Linked DNA regions of Homo sapiens: region 1 is linked to region 2. The links come from fine-mapping of genetic effects on gene expression. A gene starts in region 2. The other region holds a variant in brackets. All regions are shown on one strand. Distances are from middle to middle.

Region 1 (5,000 bases), 48 kb after region 2:
TTCTTGACGGGCCAGCCCAGGAACCCCAGAGCGCACCATGGCTGTCCAAGTCCTCTGTCTCCTCTCTGCGGTAAGGTGGGGTGGGCAGAGGTGGGGTCCCCTGGTATAGGGGCCGGGGTGGCCCTGACACTCCCCACTTCTCCCCCCACCCCCAACAGGCTGCAGCAGCTGGAGCGCATGGGCTTCCCTACGGAGCAGGCGGTGGTGGCACTGGCAGCCACAGGCCGTGTGGAGGGTGCCGTGTCACTGTTGGTTGGAGGACAAGTGGGCACTGAGACCCTGGTGACCCATGGAAAGGGTGGGCCTGCCCACTCCGAGGGTCCTGGGCCTCCCTAGCCCAGGCAGAGAGTGGGGCACAGGCAGGCCCTTGGGTGCTAAGGGCTGGGCTGCATGTGGGTAGCCCGAGCTCCTACTCTGTCTAAAGAGGGCCACAGTGGGGAGCAGGGGCACCTCTGGAGGCAGGAGAGGCCCCCCAGCATGCTGCCCTAGTACGTGTTTAGAATAAAAACCAGTTTGTTTTTCAACCTGGACCTCCTTGGAGGCAGCAGTTGTGTTTGACTCTTCTGTGTTGGCATCAGGGGGATGAATGAATGAGTGAGCACCAAATGAATGACCAGTTGTGGGAGAGCTGTTCCCTGATGTCCAGAGACACAGGCTTCCTGGCCCTGCACCTTGCAGCCTATACCTCCAGGAGGCTCTGTCCTCCAGCACAGAGCATTCTCCACCGCCCATTTCTAGCCCTCTCCGTCGTAGCCTCATTCCCAGCTGCCCCCATCTAAGCACACACTGAGACCAAGCTGCGGGGAATCAGGTAGGGGCCTTTATTGGCCAGCACACATCTACCTCCTGGCATCTGTCACAAGCATTTGCAGGAGTAGGCGGCCCCTTCCTCTCCATGTCCCCATCCCCAACCTGAGATGCGGGAGGGCCTGGGGGCTCAGAGGGAAGAACTGAGGCAAGAAGCCCCCGGTGATCCAGTCAGAGGATTGGGCAGCCTGACCTCGGGGTGGGGAGCCCAGCACTGGACAACAAGGAGGGAGGGGCACAGGAGGGCTCCCCGAGGTTTGGTCGGGGAGGGGGAGGAAGACTGCCCCCTGCCCTGTCATCTCTGCATGTGCCGAGCCCCAGCTCCTGACTCCCTCAGTGCCTTTGGGCCTGGATGCTCAGACAGCAGATGAGACGAAGCCTTGTACCTCTATCCCTCCTTGAAGGCCTGCCTCCCCCCACTTCACAGAGGGAAACTGAGGCCCAAGCCTCTCCTCTCAGCCCTTGCTCAGCCTCAGACATGTGCATGGTGCCAGGACTGAGACCTGCTTACCCCTAAGGCCTAGATGGCAGAAGGGACCCTGAGGACATTAATAAATATGGACGGGCGGTCCCTGGAGGCAGCTGGCCGAGTCCAGGTAGGAGGGGAAGCCTGGCCTGGTCTGCCTCAGGGGCCGCCACCACCCTCAGCCTCTCTCGTCCCGGCTCCTGGGGGCCACGATCCGGTAGTTGGTTGCATGTCCGCCCCTCTTGCCCCGAAGGAGGCTGGGGGTGCCTGTGCCGGCAGGGCCCGCCCCAGACCCCAGCTCTGGTTCTGCCGGAGGGAAGAAGGAGAGAGGCCACATTAGAGGGGTTCATGTGAGGTGCCCACCTCCCCTTGGCCCTCTAGGGGGTGGCAGAACCGGGCACGCTCTGCCAGGTATAATCCACCCTGGTATCTGGCTGCAGAGCTGTGGGAAAGGGGGTCTGCAGATTGGTTGGTGCCTCACGCCAGGACTTACCAGCCCCCCAGCCCAAGGAGAGCACTCAGGGCCTCTGCTTCCTGCTTTGTCAGGTGGGGATAACCACACCCACCTCCTTTAGGAAGTGTTTAGATGCAGTGAATGCTTCATAGAAAGGCTGCTTCTTTTTCTATTCATTTTGGGGTGGAGGTGTGCCCTGAGTCATCCCCATTTGGTAGCTGGGTAAACTGAGGCCAGGGAACAGACATGGGCTAGGCCACCAGTTGGGGGAAAGAGCTTAGGAGGCCAGGCTCTGCCACTGACCTACTGTGCAGTCTTGGGCAAGCTGGACCTCTGTCAGGGCCTCAGTCATCTCATCTCTGAAACAGGGACAGTTCCGGATGGAACCAGAAAACTACTCATCCTTCAAAACCAAGGGTAGGAGCCATTTCCTCCAGGAAGCCTTCTGTGCCTATCATCTCAGCCCTTCCCAAAGTAAAATGAGCAGGCCAGGCAGGTCAGAAGAATAGGCTGTTTTTCTAGGGGGAGATGGACACTCAGGGAGGAGAGGGCCACGGTGGAGGACTTGGCTAAGCCTCCATAGGACAGATACTTGGGTTCTGGTAAACACCAGGTTCCCACTGAGGGCACTGCCATGGAGTGGGCTGTCCGTC[G/A]TAATCATGACTGCCAGTGCCCCGACCCTGTGTGGCCCAGCCTGCCCTGCACCTCTGGGCTGAGTTGAGGGCTCCCGGAGCAGACAGGCATGTGTGGTCACTGAAAGGGACATTCCATGCCTTAGGGAGCGTGGGAGGGGAGTGGCACAGAGCACTGGCCCCAATGCCAGCTGGGATCATGGCTTGGTCCCACTCTGCCAGTTATGTGGCCTTGGGCAAGTCATAGAACCTCTGAGCGTCATCTGGAACGTGGGCATAATAGTCCCATTTTCACACCCTTGTGATACATGTGTTTACCGTGACCAGGACTGGAAAGTGGTTTTCACGGGAAATGCTGGATTATTATGGTTACTAGGTTGGTGTCGCTTCCACCCAGGTCTCCTGCAGGTCTGGCCCCTGTGAGTTTGTCACAATCAAATTTGGGGCCCTGGATGAGTGGCAGAGTCAGCAAACCTTTGCTGATGCAGTCCAAAGGGCCAGGACTTTAGAGGGGAGACCTGAGGTGGACCCCTAGCCTGACCATTCCCATTCCTGTGACTCTGAAGCAGTCACAGGAGCCTCTGAGCTTCTGTTTCTTCACCTGTAAAATGGCCACGGCATCGCTCACCTAGCAAGTTTACTCCTCTAAGAGATTGGAGATGATCAATCCAGCCCAGGTGGGCCAGACACGTGGCAGCTGATACTATTATCATAATTATTGATTATAACCTAAACATGAACCCCATCTGGGTCTTCAGTAGCACCTGATGTGTATGTTGCGCCAATGGGGAGGGTCCCACCTCCTTCCCTGTCCCATTTCCCAGTCCCCCGACCTGTCCCTCCAAGCCCCGACCCAAGCTGGCTTGAGGGGCCACTGGCAGTGGGTGTGGGACTTCTGAGGTGTCTGGCACTTTTCTCCCTGGGCTGTCAGAGACAGAGCTGGCTGAAGGCAGGGACAGATCCAGGGACATGGTGGCTCAAATGTGTCCCTTCTAGCTCCTGCTCCAATCCTCAGAGAGGAGGTGGAGACACCTAAAAAGGTTCTGAGAGCCTGAGATTTGGTCCTTGGCCCCTCTCTGTAAGAGGGGAGGAGGTCTGGGAGCTAGGCACTGAAGTTTCTAGAAGTTAGAGAAGCATGTGGCACTGTGGGAGGAGCTTTGGAAGCAGACCCCACACCCTTCCCAGGCTCTGGGCCTCTGCACAGGCAGGACTCTCTCAAGGCTGCCCGACCCACTTCCCCACCTGGCACACTCATTGGGATCTTCCAGGACGCAACGCAGAGTCCCCTCTTCCAAGAAGCCTTCTCCAACCCCTAGGGACAAGTGACTCTTCCTCATCCATATCCTTCCATGCTCCCCTACCCCATATCTCCGTAGATACGATTCCCTGCCACTCATGGCCAGCTCCCCAAGGCCAGCACCTATCTGTACTCCAGAGCACCAGTGCCCAACAGGTCTGGCTTTCAATGAGTGCTCCCTACAGTTTTGCTGGATGAAGGAGGCTGGGCTCTAACCTTAACCCTTCTTCCTGCTTGGGATCTAAGTTTCTCAGTCTTTTTTTTTTTTTTTTTTTTGAGATGGAGTCTCGCTCTGTCACCCAGGCTGGAGTACAGTGGTGCGGTCTCGGCTCACTGCAACCTCTGCCTCTTGGGTTCAAGTGATTCTCCGCCTCAGCCTCCCGAGTAGCTGGGATTACGGGTGCCCGCCACCACACCCAACTAATTTTTAGTAGAGACGGGGTTTCGCCATGTTGCCCAGGCTGGTCTTGAACTCTTGACCTCAGGTGATCCATACGCCTCGGCCTCCCAAAGTGCTAGGATTACAGGTGTGAGCTAACATGACCGGCCTCTCAGTCTTTAAAATAGATGCGAGGTTGGACATGATATGGAGGCCTCTGTGCACTGATGTGCTCACTGGGCTGCGAGATAGGGCGGCTGGGCAGGTGAGGAATAGAGCTCAGCCCCTCGGGTGGCCAATCCCTTCCTTTCTTCAGGGCCAGCCACAGGCTCCAGTTTCATGGGGAGAGATTTTCTCAGCCTCACTCCCAGGAGCCAGACGCAAGGAGGGGTACCACCCACTGGTGTCTAACCACCTCCTGTACTACCCCAACCTGCCTTCTAGGACCTTCTCAATCTAGGCCCTGCCAGATTCTGTTGCTTCTAGGCTCCTTCTGGTCTCTTGGCCTTCGCTTATGCTGTTTCTCTGCCTGTTCACTCTCCCCAGATCCTTGCCCTTCAAGTCTTCACTTAGATATCACCTCCTCCAGGAAGACCTCCCTGACCCCCCTCCAACCTCCTCTGGGCCAGGCCAGAGGCACTTCTGTATTTCCATGGCTGCCTGTACTCCCTTTCCTGCAGTGTAGCTCACCTGGGTTTCTCTACCAGTGTCAGGGTTCTCCTGAGCCCCCCAGCACCCTACACTCCTCAAGGGCAGGACTGTGTCTGTCTTATCTTGTGGAGCCTGTCCCAGCAAGGTGCCTGGCACAGAGCAGGTGCGCATTCACTCAAGTGACCAGAGCCTTCTCTCTGCCAGGCACCATTTGCTGGCTGGCTGGCTGGATGAAGAATGAGTGTCCGCTGGCCTGGGCCAAGCATCGGAAGGCGCCTTCTGCATGCCCAGGCCTTTTCCAGGCCCTTCCTGGA
Region 2 (5,000 bases):
TCGCTGGGTGTCATGCGGGGGCCGCGGGCAGGAGTCCCTGGTGCGGGGGCGGTTTCAGTGGTGTCCTCCCCAGCGGCAGGGGCGTTGGGGGCTGGGGGTGCAGCACGCAGCTCCCGCTCAATCTCCTGCTCAAACTGCACGAGGCGTGGGGCCAGCAGGCCCAGGCGTGCCCCACGCCGCGCCACCTCCAGCAGGCACAGCACCACGCTCTTCTCGTTCTTGCGCAGCACCAGGTCCTCAGTCTCAAACATGAGCACCTCCGGCACACCCAGCTCCACGCGGCACCAGCCGATGAAGGTGGCCACGTTGTCGCGCGCCATGAAGGAGCCAGGCACTACACTGTGCGCCTGGAAGGCCACACCTCGGGCCGGGCGGGCGGCTGCCAATGCACGGGCAGCCTCGGTCACGGCGTTGGCATGTTGGCACAGGGTCGTGCCCGTGGCCAGCCCTGTCAGGAAGCCATCGCCACCACCCGGGAGACCCAGGCCGTACAAGGCATTGAGCCACTCGGCCAGGTCCTCCTTCATGGCCTCCACGTAGGCCTCACTGGAGCGAAATGGCCGCACGCTCTTGGCCGCCGAGCCCGCGATGCCCGCCACTGGGTCTGCCATGCCCGGACCGGCCGAGTCACTGTGGGCAGGAACACAGTTCAGGATCGCTGTGGGGACCCAGTAAGCGCTCAGTACAAATTAAGCTGCTGGCCACCTGCACCAGTCTGTCACTCAGGCCAAATGCCTGGTTTACATGTTGGCTCTGGGAAATGTCGGTGCCCCAAGTTTCCTCATCTGCGAAATGGGTACAGTAACATTCCCTGCCTCATAGGACTCTATGGGATAATTTTTATAAATTTAGGGTCCATTAAGTGTTTGCTGTGTGGCTTTTTGCGGTGGAAACTGGGGCTTGGCTGGGGCCTCCCTCTCAGGCAGGGAGGCGCGCCCATTGTGAAGGGCTGGGACCTAGAGAAGTGAAGACAACGGCTAAGGCCCCCAGTGGACACGAAAGGAACCCAGGTCCTGACCTCAGAGTGGGTTATGTGCATGGCTTAGGGCTGGTGCCCACCCCATGTCCTGCGGGAAGGTCCCCGTGCCTTCCTTGGCCCCCCTTCCATAAGGGCTGTGCCGTCATTAACGACATAGCAGCAGCAATAGTGTAACAGCACGACCGCGCTCGGGCTCAGCGCGCGGAGGCATTATCTCCATTTTATAGATGAGGAAACTGAGGCGCAGAAAGGGTCGAGCTCGTGAAGGTCGCAGAGCTGTGGGTGGAGGAGCCCGGCGTCCAGGCGGCGCAGCGTGGCCGGTCTCGGCGATCCGGGGCCAGGGCCAGGCCCCGCCTCCTCCAAGAAGCCTCCCCAGCGCTCCAGGCCGGTGCCTGCGGGGCCAGGACTCAGAGCGGCCTCCGCAGGCCCTGCCGGTGCTGGGGCTCTGGGCCCAGAGAGGGTGCGGGGCCGCCCAAGGTCACACAGCCCCGGGGAACAGAGGCCGAGGACGCCGCTTCCCGCCCCGCCTCCCCACCCCCGTCCATGCGCACCAGGCAGGGAGTGCTGGGGGTCTCCGCGCTCACCTGGCTCATCCCGCGGCCCCGGGGAGCATTGCCCCAGCGGGGGCCGGAGCCGGGCCGGGCCGCCGCAGGGAGGCGCCGCCCGAGCCGCAGCTCTATGCGTCCCGCGCCGCGGCCTCCTCCTCGCCGCCGTCTCCGCCCCGCCTCCCTGGAATTCGGATCCTGCCCGGAGGGGGCGGGCGGGGCCGCGCGCTCTTAAAGGGGCCGCCCCTTCCCCGAGCCGGCGGGAGCTGGGGTGGAGCTGGGGTCTCCCCCCGCCCGCGATCGGGCCAGGAATCCCGGGTCTTCGAGCGCTCTCGACGCAGAGAGCCCCAGGGCCCCCAGACAACTGCGACCGGCCCAGGCGCCCAACCCCCACCCAGCCTAGTACCCGGGGCCCCGTCCAACCTCTTTGGTCTCCTGGGGAGGAGGTTGGGACCTTTTAATCGCCCCCCTCCCCAGACGGTGGGCTCCCCGGGCTGGCGCACAGCACGGCCTGTTCCCAAGATGAAGGCAGGAAGCGATAGCGGCTGGAGGCTGCAAAGTCACCTCCTCCCGGGTGGACCTCCCCTGGCCAGATAAACGGCACCGCCGCGGGGAGGGGGAGGATGCCCCTGGCGACTGAGGGCTCCTTGTGCTCACTGAATGCTCATTTTTGACCCTGAAATGAGGGGAACCGGTTTTACAGATGAGGATACTGAAGCTCAGAGAAGTAGGCAGATGGCCAAAGCCGGAGTTCCGCACAGAACAGGGGACGGGGGGCATCGGAGGCCGGCCGGACGCGGGAGGGTTAAGCCCCGCTGGGCTCTTTTTAAACTGCAGAGGACGGACCGCCGGGATCAGCGGGAAATCCTGCCCCCTGCTGCTGCCGGCTGGGCTGGGCGGGACGTCGGGCGGGTCTGGGCGGCAGCCATGCTACACGGGTGGGGCAGGCCTGCAGGGAAGCCGCCAACCACAGCCAGGCTCAGAGCTCCAATAAATCTCCTACTGTGTGCTGCCAGGACTGCTCTGCGCCCTTGACCTGAATGAACTGGTGTGTCACCTCTGTGAAGGACACTCATGCCCAACTGGGGCACAGTCAGGAGAGCAGCTGGTGGAGCCAGGATTTGAACATGACGATTATGGGGACGCCCTCATCCACGGATCAGCAGCATTGGTTGAGCACCTGTGAGCCAGGCCTCTTGGTGCCAGGCATTCACAGGCATCCCAGAGAGTCCTTGTGACCTTTTCTTTTTTATTTTCTTCCTTTTTTTTTTTTTTTTTTTTTTTGTCTCGCTCTGTCGCTCAGGCTGGAGTACAGTGGCTGGATCTGGGCTCATTGCAACCTCTACCTCCGGGGTTCAAGCGATTCTCCTGCCTCAGCCTCCCGAGTAGCTGGGATTACTGATACCTGCCACCACGCCCGGCTTTTTGTATTTTTAGTAGAGACAAGTTCACCATGTTGGCCAGGTTGGTCTCGAACTCCTGACCTAAGGTGATCTGCCCGCCTCCACCTCCCAAAGGGCTGGGATTACAGGTGTGAGCCACTTGCCTGGCCTGTGTGACCTTTTCAAAGGCGTTTTCTCACCTCAGCGCCCCCCATGGCACTTCCTCCAGTGAGGAAGGCAGTAACTAGCAATCCTCAAGGCTGACACCTGCGTGGCACCTACTGTGTGCTGGGTCTCTTTGGGCACTGGAAATCAACAGCAAAACAGCAGGGAACCAAGCAGAGCCAGCTCTCAGGGCCTGTTGTCCAAGTCTGGCAGGGAGGCAGCCCCAGGGCAGAGACAGGGATGAGGTGCAGAGAAGACAGGGATGGAGCCGGGTGAGGGTGTGGGTGTGAGGGGGCTGCAATTTAAAATCCCTCATCAGGAAAGGAAGTGAGGGAGGAAGGTCGGGGATATCTGGAGAGGGAGAGGGAACGGCCAGTGCAAAGGCCCCATGGTGGGCATGTGTCCGGCGTGCTCAAGAAGACTGGGGAGGTGGCTGAGGCTGGAGTGCAGGGAGGTGGGTGAGGGAGGAGGTAGAGAGATTAGAGAGACCCCAGGGCCGGTTAAGCAGGGCCTTGGGGGCCGTGTCTCTTTTGAGGGACATGGGAGCCATGCAGTGATTTAGAGCAGGGGTGGTTGGCTTAGGTCTTAACATTCCCGGCCGGGCGCGGCGGCTCACGCCTGTAATCCCAGCACTTTGAGAGGCCGAGGCGTGCGGATCACGAGATCGGGAAATCGAGACCATCCTGGCTAACATGGTGAAACCCTGTCTCTACTAAAAAAATACAAAAAAATTAGCCAGGCGTGGTGGCGGGCACCTGTAGTCCCAGCTACTTGGCAGGCTGAGGCAGGAGAAGGAGAATGGTGTGAACCTGGGAGGCGGAGCTTGCAGTGAGCCCAGATCGTGCCACTGCACTCCAGCCTGGGCGACAGAGCGAGACTCCGTCTCAAAAAAAAAAAAACATTCCCTGGGGCTGCTGTGGTGGGCCAGGGCAGGAGCTGGAGCCTCAGAGGAAACCAGGTGGTGAGAGGGCGCTGGATTCTGGCCATATTGTGAGGGGAGAGCTGATGTGCTGGTGGATTGGTTGAGTGTGAGGACGGAATCCAGGACAACTCCCAGGGCTGAGCACTGGGAGGGCGGAGGTGCTAACACCTGGGGAGGGAAGGGCTGCTGGAGGTGGAGGAGGGTTGCAGGTTTGGGGTGGGGGTGAATCAGGGTGTGGACATTTAACAGTTTCATCTTCAAAATACCCCGATGAGCTATGATACTCTTAGGTGTTCTCATTTTACAATTTGGGGAAACTGAGGCCCAGAGAAGGCATGGGATATGTGTAGCCAGCAGCTGTGCAGGAATTTGACTCCTGCTTATACCTACCTTGCTGCATTTTGGGGTTTTGGACATGGGTGAAGTTGGACGGAACCCAGGCTCTGTCATTGGTCATTGGGTGGGATGGTGAAGCTCCCTGAGCCTCAGTGGCACCATCTGCAGAATGGGACAGTAGTAGTAGTTACATCATGGGGTTGTGAAAAATAATGCCACTACCCAGCTCAGTGTGGCCTGGCTCAGCATATCCACTTCTCTGGGGAGGAGGGATTATAAAGAAATTCCTTCTGCTGGGCGCAGTAGCTCACGCCTGTAATCCCGGCACTTTGGGAGGCCGAGGCGGGTGGATCATGAGGTCGGGAGATCGAGACCATCCTGGTTAACACGGTGAAACCCCGTCTCCACTAAAAATACAAAAAATTCTCTGGGTGTGGTGGCGGGTGCCTGTAGTCCCAGCTACTCTGGAGGCTGAGGCAGGAGAATGGCGTGAGCCCGAGAGGCGGAGCTTGCAGTGAGCAGAGATCAGAGATTGCGCCACTGCACTCCAGTCTGGGCGACAGAGCGAGACTCCGTCACACACACACACACACACACACACACACACACACACACACACACACGAGATTCCTTCCTCCTTCTCTCCCATGAGCTGTGGCTTGTGATAAGAG

Direction of the effects. Positions count from the first base shown, and alleles are read on the strand shown. Sizes are in standard deviations (SD) of each study's normalised expression.
For the expression in anterior cingulate cortex of the gene that starts at base 2,067 in region 2, G is the high allele of the variant in region 1 and A is the other (small effect, 0.33 SD a copy in GTEx).

What was found. PIP is the estimated chance that this variant, and not a neighbour inherited with it, causes the effect.
Region 1: its variant is the best candidate, but not a certain one, in a credible set for the expression of GAS2L1 in anterior cingulate cortex (GTEx, PIP 0.62).

Annotation. Positions count from the first base shown.
Region 1 is chr22:29,255,396-29,260,395 of GRCh38, reverse strand. EMID1 (EMI domain containing 1) reads right to left here. Exons shown (of 15, transcript NM_133455.4): 15 at 799-1,579. The coding sequence ends at 1,452. RHBDD3 (rhomboid domain containing 3) reads left to right here. Exons shown (of 7, transcript NM_012265.3): 6 at 1-70; 7 at 159-524. The coding sequence ends at 336. Among named protein-coding and RNA genes, the nearest start is that of RHBDD3, 10 kb to the left of the region's middle. RefSeq lists an enhancer at 1-800. The variant G/A (reference allele first, on the strand shown) is at 2,381.
Region 2 is chr22:29,303,717-29,308,716 of GRCh38, reverse strand. GAS2L1 (growth arrest specific 2 like 1) reads right to left here and starts at 2,067. Exons shown (of 6, transcript NM_001362985.3): 1 at 1,564-2,067; 2 at 1-630. The coding sequence starts at 611. RefSeq lists silencers at 1,331-1,470, 1,561-1,610, 1,631-1,900 and enhancers at 1,571-2,314, 2,661-2,710, 2,315-3,060.